2 separate regions of the Homo sapiens genome follow, and region 2 is linked to region 1. The links come from fine-mapping of genetic effects on gene expression. A gene starts in region 1. The other region holds a variant in brackets. All regions are shown on one strand. Distances are from middle to middle. Region 1 holds the start of ASNS (asparagine synthetase (glutamine-hydrolyzing)). Region 2 overlaps CZ1P-ASNS (CZ1P-ASNS readthrough).

Region 1 (5,386 bases):
ACCCTTACATACGTTAATTACTTTCCAATTTCAAATTCTCAACTGTGAAATAAAGGGCTGTTTTATTTGGCTGCTGCCAGCTCAAAATGACACATTGCACCATGTGTGGCATTTGGGCCCTGTTTGGCAGTGATGACTGCCTTTCTGTTCAGTGTCTGAGTGCTACGAAGATTGTACACAGAGGTCCAGATACATTCCGTTTTGAGAATGTCAATGGATACACCAAAAACAAGATGTTTTAATTAAAACATCTCTAACTTGAAAAATAACTATTTTGGTGTTTTTTTTAAAAAAACTGCGAATTGCAGCAAATGCCCAAATAGTTTGGGATAAACACCCTAAGGAAAAAATATACATTCAAGTTGCATAAGTCACTTTGAGCTATTCTTTGATGATATTTCATTTATATCTAAAAGAACCAAAGGTTTAGCTGGCTTTTCCGGAAAACCAGAACCAAATAATATATGGTTAGAATGAAAATCATCTCAAGCAATTTGGAAATGAAGTACCACATGTCCTATGCTGTCTCTTCCATGCACTTGACCAAATAGCCCAAATAGCCTATAACAAATTATTTGAGATTTACTGGAAAAATTCCATAAGATTTAAATGAGATGACTACTAATAAGCCATCTGCCTTTGACTCTATATCAATTTAAAACGGGTTAGGAAAGTGCTTTGAAAATCAAGTATGGTCATCAGGGAATCAGTTACCTAAGTCTTCTTAACGCTGCTTAGTGAATCCCTGTATTAATCCTGCTATAATAAATACATTCTAACCACTAAACTGGAGGGGAAAAAGGGAGAACAAAGAGGCATGTAAAGTACACTTATTTTTTCTAGTAGGAAAAAGCCAATTAAAACTATAACCTATTATTTTTATTGGAATCAGTCTTATAGGAGGGCAAAGTTCCTACTGCCGCTACCTGTTCTCAATATTTTTCTTATTTCTTCCTAAACTTCTAGAACAGTGCTGTCCAATAAATATATATGTAAGCCACATATGTAATTTTAAATATACTAGTAGCCCCATTAAAAGAAAAAGGTGAAATTAATTTTAAATAAACTTAACTCAGTATGTCCCAAATAGTAACATTTTAACATATATGTAATCAATATAAAATATTATCGAGCAGATATTTTACACTGTTCTTCCTACTCCAACGACAAAATCCAGTGTATTTAACACAATACATCTCAGTTAGGACTAGCCAGCACTTCAAGTGCTCAACAGTTACAGGTGGCTAGCGCCTACCGAACTGGACATGGCAGTTTCAGTGCATTTAATTTCTATTCCACTTAGTGCTACTTACAACTTCACCCTCTCCCTTTACTTTTATATTAAGATCTCAGTAAGTAACCAACTACAGACAGGTTCAAGCCCTACTTTACCTCTAATTACTCTTACAGCAATGCTATGAATCATGATTTAAAATTTAAAAAAAAAAACTGCTGTTAAATTATTAGTCAAGCGCCCAGGGCAATGGACAGTAAAGAAATAATGTAGGCCACGGGCCGAGATGAAAACTGTCCTTTTTATTTAAAGCTATAACAATCATCTGAAGCCAGCCCTGCAAAATGACAGCCATTGAAAAAGGCATGCTAGTTCTTTTGCCTTTTTCTGTACTTGGTCGCCTGTGTCCCTAAACAGACCTCTTCTCGGCAGGGTTTGCTCAGCAAGTCACTTGATGAGTCTTGCAGTCTACAGAGACAGGTGGGGACTGGTGGGGATGGCGGGGTGAGAGGGGAGGAGGAGGGTGAGCGGTCCAGGTGAGGAGGGGGGCAGTTGAAGGTGAAAGCAGACACCGAGACGGTGATAAGGCCGCAGTCTCTTCCTAGATCAGGACCACGCGACACCTGACTGCGCCCTGGCCACGAGCACGATCCGACCCGTCCGCCGCAGGGACCCGGACCGCGAAAATGTCCACAGGCTTCGACGCCACATAGTAAAAAAAAGTACACATATAACATTTACAGGGGCTCAAACTGCCGCTGCCTCCTCTCCGGAGCGGTCCGGCCTGCCGGCCGCGGTTCCCTCTCGATGCTTCAGGGAACCAGGACAGAAAGGTCCTTCCGCTAGCTGTCAGGTGCGTAACAATCGCTAGGCGTCCGCCCCGCCCTCCCTACCGCAGGAGCCGCAGCATCAGCAGGCGCCCGCGAACCGCGTCTGCCGGGTGCCAGGCTGAAGACCGCATCCTCCACCCCTTCCTTCCGGAGCAGCCCCAGGGCACGCGAGGAGGATGCTGGCGCGGGGCGCAGGGCACGGGGCGCAGGACCCGGCTCACCTGGGCGTAAGCAGGTCAGGGTGATGTGGCGGGCTGAGGCCAGGGATGTGGACAGCTTGACGGGCGGCGAGGCCGCTGGCGCTTATACCGACCTGGCTCCTGTAACGCGTGCGGGAAGTTTCATCATGCCTGCGAGGACCAACCAGCGCGCACAGGGGCGGGGCCGCGGGGTGTCCGGGGCGGAGCAGGACTAAGTGGGGCGGCGGAAGGGCGCAAGGAGGAGCTCTTTTGTTTCCAGCGCCTTGCGTCTCAGTGCGCCTGTTTAAGGATAGCCTCAGAGCTCCGCCCAGGCTACCTGCTGTTCTGACAATTAGGGAGGCTTCTGAACTTGGTTTGTTCTTCGGGAAATCATCACCGTTTTTTTGTTGCACTGCCGTCTGATTTATTATGCAGTGCAGAGAAAAGCTTGTCCTAAGAAACTGATGCGTGAGGCCTAAAATGTCCTTATAAGATCTATTAATAAATCGGGGCCAGGAGCGGTGGCTCACGCCTGTAATCCCAACACTTTGGGAAGCCAAGGCAAGAGGATCACTTGAAACCAGGAGTTCAAGACCAGCCTGGGAAACACAGCGAGATCACATCTCTATAAAAATTGGTGGCACACCATGGTAGTCCCAGCAACTCAGGAGGCTGAGGCAGAAGGATAGTTTGAGCCCAGGCGTTTGAGGCTGAGGTGAGCTCAACTCCAGCCTGGGCGACAAAGGGAGACCCCCATCTCTAAAACAATAAAATCTAAATCTAATTGATACATGAAGCCAAAATACATCAGTGGTCCTTAAACATTTTAAGTACAAAGATTCCTTTTAGAATCTCAAAAAGGATTTTGTCAACTTGCCTCCACAAGATGATTATGTGCTTTTAAGTATCTCTTTGATGAAGAAAAGACATCACGATTTTTAAAAAGTATCATAACACTCTTAAATCGTATTTTACTAATTACATCAGCACCGAAATAAATTGAGAAATAGTAAAATTATATGTGCACGACCTACTAAGATCAGACTACAGTCAATGCTTGGAGAGCATGCAGGTTTGATATCCCCATACAACGCATTCCTGACTAAATCAAAAACGTCAACAATTTAAAATCCCTAAGAACAGAAGATGGAGTAGTCGCTTAGTAGTTACAGGCAAGAGCAAAGATGAGAGATGACTTGTTCTAAGGTTCATTGTTGCTGGAAAGTTTTCAGTATCAAACAGACTTTGCTGTATCCTAATTGACGTACTTTAAACCTGAGAGCAATGTGGGAAAGTAGGTCTTCTATCTACATTTTACAAATGAAAAAATAAGACTCAGAAAAGTTGAGGGATTTATCCAAACACAGCTTCACAACAGTAGAGAACTGAGTCATAATCTGTGTAAACCCAGAGCCCATTTCCCGTAGCATCTTGCCTATGTAGTGAAAGACAGGTTCCCCTGCTTGGTGTGTTACCTAGTGTGCTTCCTTGTGCTGCGTATCTCCTGCTTGTCCGTCCAGAGCTCTACACTTCTCCACCTCACTTTCTATCCTGGCTCCCTTGCCCTCCTCTTTCAGGGAGAGTGTGCAAAGGCAGACATTTCAAGGAGATGCAAAAGGTGAAATTAAAATTGCTAATGAAGTTTTGGCACCATTGTCATTGATAACATCTTATCAGGAGACAGGGTTTTGAGATCAACCGGTCTGACCAAAGTTTATTAGGTGGGAATTTTCTCTTCCTAATAAGCCTGGGAGTGCTATGGGAGACTGGAGTTTATTTCACCTCTGCAGTCTCGACCATAAGAGACAGGTACGCCCCGGGGGGCCAGTTTAGAGACCTACCCCTAGGTGCGCATTCTCTTTCTCAGGGACGTTCCATGCTGAGAAAAGGAATTCAGCGATATTTCTCCCATTTGCTTTTGAAAGAAGAGAAATATGGTTCTGTTCTGCCTGGCTCACCGGCGGTCAGAGTTTAAGGTTATCTCTCTTATTCCCTGAACAATTGCTGTTATCCTGTTCTTTTTTCAGGGTGCCCACATTTCATATTGCTCAAACACACATGCTGTATAATTTGTGTACTTAACGCAATTATTACAGGTCCTGAGACGATATACATCCTTCTCGGCTGACAGGATTAAGAGATTAAAGTAATGACAGGCATAGGAAATCACAAGGGTATTGATTAGGGAAGTGATAAGTTTAGTCCATGAAATCTTTACAATTTATGTTTAGAGATTGCAGTGAAGGCAGGCATAAGAAATTACAAAAGTATTAATTTGGGGAACTAATAAATGTCCATAAAATCTTCATAATCCACGTTCTTCTGTCATGGCTTCAGCTGGTCCCTCCGTTTGGGGTCCCTGACTTCCCGCAACACAGCACAGTGCCTGGCACAAAAGAGTTGCTCAATAAATACATCAGGATGAATAGATAAATACACGGATAGGCACTTTGAACTACAGATGAGCTTAAATACTTTGTGTTTTTCTTAGTCAAACATGTGCAATTAAGCATGTGATAAATGTTATGATGACCACACGTGTGTCTTGCCTGATGTTCTTTGCAATCACTAAATGAAGTCAATTGTGCCTGTTTTGACAGTTCTATTTTCAACCTAATGATCTGTTTATTTTAACTTCTGGCTGTTGGCTTTGTTTGGGTTTGTTAGCCTGACGAAGTGGTAGATATTGGTATTTGCTCTTTTGTTTAAATGTCACGAACTTTAAAAATGCCTTTGCTTTTGGGAAGAAACCCTAGTTAGGACACCCTAGCGGTCAGGATGATTTGGGTTCTGGTGCAGTAACGACAATCCCCAAATCTCAGTGGCTCCATGCAGTGAGGTATTTGTTTGTTTTTGAGACAGGGTCTCACTCTGTCACCCAGACTAGAGTGCAGTGGTGCAATCTCAGCTCACTGCAACCTCTGCCTCCCAGACTCAAGTGATTCTCCTGCCTCCTGAGTAGCTGGGATTACAGGCCCATGCCACCACTGTCTGGCTAATTTTTGTACTTAGTAGAGACAGGATTTCACCATGTTAGCCAGGCTGGTCTTGAACTCCTGACCTCAAATGATCCACCCGCCTTGGCCTCCCAAAGTTCTGGGATGACAGGCATGAGCCACCATGCCTGGCCACAGTGAGGCTTA
Region 2 (5,386 bases), 31 kb after region 1:
TGTGCTCAAACTCCTGCCCTCAAGTGATCCGCCTGCCTTGGCCTCCCAAAGTGCTGGCATTACAGGCATGAGCCACCATGCCCGATCTCAGTCATCTTTTTATCCTCCACACCTGGCAAGTTCTAGACACACTGTGGTTCCATACAAGTTTGTTGAATAAACAGGAGACAGAGAGTGAGAACTCTGGAAGTATAGAAGATTCCAGAAATTGTGCATATTTCCCACAGACTGTGGCCCAATTCCTCAGTCCTGCCAGAGTTTCTCTATCTCAACTCAAACCTTATGTGTGGGCCCAGGCGCAGTGGCTCACACCTGTAATCCCAACACTTTAGGAGGCTGAGGTGGGCAGATCACTTGAGGCCAGGAGTTTGAGACCAGCCTGGCCAACATGGTGAAACCCCGTCTCTACTAAAAATACAAAAATTAGCCAGACATGATGTTGTGCACCTGTAGTCCCAGCTACTCAGGTGGCTGAGGCACAAGCATTGCTTGAACCCAGGAGGTGGAGGTTGCAGTGAGTCACTATTATGCCACTGTACTCTAGCCTGGGCAATAAAGCAAGACTGTCTCAAAAGAAAAAAAAAACCCTTAAGTGTGGGCCTTGTTACAGAATTAATGTGTATATGGACAATATGTACATGGGTGTATGTTAAGAGCATGAGTCATCCACAAGATTTCAGCAAAGTCCATTTGGAAAGCTCAATGCTTTGGGCTTCCACTTGCTTTGCTGCCTCTGTCCTCAGAAGGAGGCTTCATCCTTCCATGTAACCAGCAAATCCTTTATGCAGAGATGTAAACAACACACTCCTCTCCTTGGCTATGACACCTTGAAAGGGTCCTCTTGGTGGCCCCTGGTGCTCATTTCAGAGTAGTTCAAATTAAGGTGATCAGCTTTCATGCCAATCACTCTACAAATCACTCCTATTACGACCAATTTTTCTAAATGCTTTATTGAATTATTACTTAAAGAAATGTGCACATAGAAGAGGTCAACACAGTACTTTTCTTACAAACTGAACATACTGGCCAGACGCAGTGGCTCATGCCTGTCATCCCAGCATTTTGGGAGGCCGAGATGAGCAGATTGCTTGAGCCCAGGAGCTTGAGACCAGCCTGGGCAACATAGTGAGACACTCCTCTCTACAAAAAATAAATAAATAAAAAATTAGGCAACAGTGGTGGCACATGCCTGTAGTCCCAGCTACTCGGGAGGGCTGAGGTGGGAGGACTGCTGGAGCCCAGGAGGCAGAGGCTGCAGTGAGCCATGATGGTGCCACTGTGCTCCAGCCTGGGTGACAGAGAAAGATCCTGCCTCAAAACAACAACAACAACAACAACAAAAAACTGAACATCTCCATATTGCTGACACCCAATTCAAGAAACAAAATATTACAGACCCTTCCAGGATATTCCTGGGGTCTCTTCCATCTCTACTAACCCCTGACTACAAACAGCCTCCACCTATTTCACCTGACATTGTACTTTATGAAAGCAGCAGTTCTCAGATGGGGCTATTTTGCCCCCTGGGGACATTAGGCAATATCTGGAGACACTGGGGGTTGTGTCTACTTGGGGGGAGTTGTGTTACTGCATCCAGTGAGTGCAGGGATCCAGGGATGACGCTCAACATCCTAAAATGCACAGGGAACCCCCACACATAGAACAGAGAAATTGCTGAGCCAAAATGTCAGCAGTGTCACAGCTGACACCCTGACATACACACTATCACACAGTATCTGCTCTTTCGTGCTCAGGATCTTTTTCATTCTAATCATCTCATAGGAAACAGAAATGTCATTTAGAGGTAGGTAGAGTCCAAAACAAAGAAGATCCAGAGTTTTTTTTTTTTTTTTTAATCAGCCTGGTGCCTTTAGAGCTAGGATTTAGTTTCCATTCTTTCTGTCTCATTTTCAAGTGATTTTTTTCTTCAAATGGCATCTACTGGGCTCAAGAACCGGAGATCCCCACAAAGCTGAGATTCACATGGGAATTTTGTACACACCTACACAGGTATACACTGCCATTTACATGCAGACATCCACCCACAGATACACACATCCGGAGACCAAGACAGAACACAAACTCCACCATAAAAGCACGGTTCCCCGAACAGGAGAAACGCACCATTCACTCCAGGGAGGTACCTATTTGTTTAATTCAGCCTCTGATAGTCAGGCTGTTGCCAAGCCCAGCTCTGAAAGTCTTCCCCTCTAGGAAAGAGAGATGGACTTTTTCTTTACTCAAGAATATAGATCTAAAAAAAACAAACACTTCTGCATCTCAAAGCAGGCTCTACCTCGTGAGCTACACATATTGATCAGCATTTTATTGTCAATTTTCTTTTACTTGAATTGGAGAAAAATATAACTTAATTATGTTCTTACTGACAGTTTGGAATCAGTTACACTAAATCCAATTCTCTGGGTTCTCATGATTAATGTGTTTAATTTGGGGGACAACAAAGCAAAAGCATTGGTCGTGTTTTAATATAATTAGTACAGGATATATCTAAGGGGTTGCAGTATCACTGTAGCAAGAAGCTCATTCTGCAGTAAAAGGGGGGTTCTGCCACTAGGATTGAGTTAGGGTGGTTCATGGCTGCACCGTTTAATCAATGTCTCTTCAAGAGTCCATGGAATGTGGAATGGGAAAGACTGAAGTAGTGCAAGTCTTGGCTAAGCTTCTATTAAGGGGTGTTAGGAGCTGATAAAATAACCTGGTCTTTATAGACATCCCACACTGTAGTTCTCTAAGCTACAGATTCTCAGATTTTTCTATTTTATAAACGAGTAAAAATATTTTTTTAATTTGAGAACAAACATAAGGTTGCTATCTTTTTTTCTTTTGGGTAAGAAGGAACTTTTTTAAACTACCAGTTTCACACACACACACACACACACACACACACACACA[G/C]AGAGAGAGAAATTCCACCATGATTGGTCAGAATAGGTGAGGTTTTGCTGCAATAACAAACAACTCCTAAATCTTGGTAACTTCAAACATCAGAAGTTGTTTTTCTCACTCATGCTACATCTGCAGGGAGGTGTGGGGTGCTCTGTTTCCCATCAAACTTGCCCTAAGACTAAGGTTAATGGGGGTTGCAATACCTCGAGTATCACCAAGCAGGGAACAGAGGGAGAAGAATGCTAGAGAGTCTTGTACTAAGAATTAAATGCTCCAGGCTAGAAGTCTAACATTGCACCTCTGCCCCCAGCCTCTTGGCCAGTACTAGCCACATCCCCTCCCCCACCACAGGGCAATGCATGAAGACAGGAGAATTGGATACATTACAAATTTCTACCCCATGGCATTTCATAAAAGAGAAAAAATGCAAATACAAAAATGTTTTAATAGAATAGAATATATACATTTTTAGAATAAAGAACAATCCTCCAAAAACGACAGCTGGTGGTCTTTCAACAATAGGCACATTTCTGTGACATTTTCTCTGTTTTTCCATTTTATCCTTGACCTATGAACATTTTATACAGATGGTCCAAAGAACACCATTTGGGGACCACTGCTCTAATCAGATGATGAAAACGGCCCCAAGAACAGAGCACAGTCTCTTTAGCAAAGACCCAGCAGGGCCAGGATGACCATGTTCTCACCATCAATGTGCAGACATCCACCTGCAGCATCCTCACATCCCAACATCAAACAGTGGCTCTTTATAGCTTGATTCTAATGCCCTTTGATCTTCATAATCATTGTAAAGATCTCTGGCCCCAAGATCTAACATCGCCACTCTAGCTACATCATGCAACTGTTCACCTCTCCTGCCTCCTCATCCCTCTAAACTTCTCTTCACAACCTCATGTTTCCTTCTTGCTTTACCTTCCTGCTCAGCCTGGACCTTACAGTCACCTTCTTCTTGTAATGTGCTCCTAAACTTGTTCTTCCCTTTCTTCAACCACACCCACCTGGAAAATCTCCATACCCCATTGATGACTTGCCTCGCAACTGCCCAAGGGCTGCTGAATGATACTGGAAGGAATCACAACATGGATCTGGTAGTTCCACTAAATAATCTCACCATCCAACTCTAGGGTAGACTTCACTTCTGTTCAGCAATATTTTTAAGTATCACAAATAAATTCCAAACCATATTTGCTATAACAATTGACTTTAAACCTCTTCCATATCTCAAAGCCCCCAACACCCATCCCTAGGGGTTTCAGAGCCCAGAGTTGAGTTCTCTCAACTCACTTCCATCTCACCCCTAGATCACTGTATCTTGACCCTCTTCCTCTGCCTTTCCCATGTTATAAGGAGAAGCATCCTTCTCCTTTTCCAAGCTACCTTCTCCACTTGTGCCTCATTTGAGACCTGCCTTTATCATCCGTTCCCTTGGAACTCCCATGACTCACCACCTTCACTTGTCATTTCACTCATAAATATTTTGCACCGTATATGTGCCAGGTGTTTAACATATAATCATGCTTAAGTCTCCACATGCTAACAAGAAAAACCTTGATTATCCCTGCTATGCCCTCAAGTCATTACCCTCCCCGCTCCTTTCCTGTGTTCCTAAACTTTGTTGATCTTCATCAATCCCTCTGATGCAGATGGCTATGAAGTTTGCATCCTCTTAGGTTGGTGCAAAAGTAACTGCCGATTTTGCCATTAAAAGTAATGGCAAAAACAGCAATTATTTTTGTACTAGCCTAGTATCTTTTCTCCTTCTACCAAACTTTGTCCCTGAGACATCTCATCACCTATAACTACCTCCTCCATGCAGTTGATTCCCAGATCTGTATTATTCTACTGAAAGTCCATTCCCCAATTTTCTCGGCTAGAATAACAGAAGCCCAGTTAGAATTCATGCTACCAGTTTCCCACCACCACCACCACCACCACCACCGTCGCCCTGCCATTGTTAGCAAAACCATCTCTTGAGTGGAGCTCAAAGATTTGTAATCTCCCACTCCCCAGAAAGATAACTTCAGACTCAGCCTAGAAGTAAAGATCCTCCAGATATGGCCTCAACTACCCTCCAACCCATGTCCCCAGTGCATCCAGTTGATGCCCCCTTCAGTGGAGCTAAAATGGAGTGAGTGGTTATCTTTTCACATACTCCTGGTGTTCTTCCACAAATACAATTTTCACCTCTTGAATATTTTCAAGGATTCTCCATGCTACACACAGTGAAATCCAAACTCCCCATCAGGACCCCAGTCTTCCCAAACCCTCTTTGCAGTTTTCTGCCTCCATGCTTTTCCTTGGGTCATCCTCTTCTCTAATATAACCTTGTGTATTATTCTAGGTTCTCCAGAGAAAGAGCAGAGAGATAGAGGTAGAGCTATACACATAGAGAGAGACAGATTGATTTGTTGTAAGAGATGGCTCACGTGGTTATGGAGGCTAAGGAGTCCTGGAGTCTGCA

What was found.
Region 2: its variant is fine-mapped to the expression of ASNS in regulatory T cells (Bossini-Castillo 2019, PIP 0.95).

Annotation. Positions count from the first base shown.
Region 1 is chr7:97,870,066-97,875,451 of GRCh38, forward strand. It overlaps ASNS (asparagine synthetase (glutamine-hydrolyzing)), which reads right to left and starts at 2,343. Exons shown (of 13, transcript NM_001673.5): 1 at 2,286-2,343. The region is part of intron 7 of CZ1P-ASNS (CZ1P-ASNS readthrough); the gene reads right to left. RefSeq lists silencers at 2,065-2,174, 2,485-2,574 and an enhancer at 2,224-2,939.
Region 2 is chr7:97,901,406-97,906,791 of GRCh38, forward strand. The region is part of intron 7 of CZ1P-ASNS (CZ1P-ASNS readthrough); the gene reads right to left. It also overlaps a transcript of ASNS not described here. Among named protein-coding and RNA genes, the nearest start is that of ASNS, 32 kb to the left of the region's middle. The variant G/C (reference allele first, on the strand shown) is at 2,914.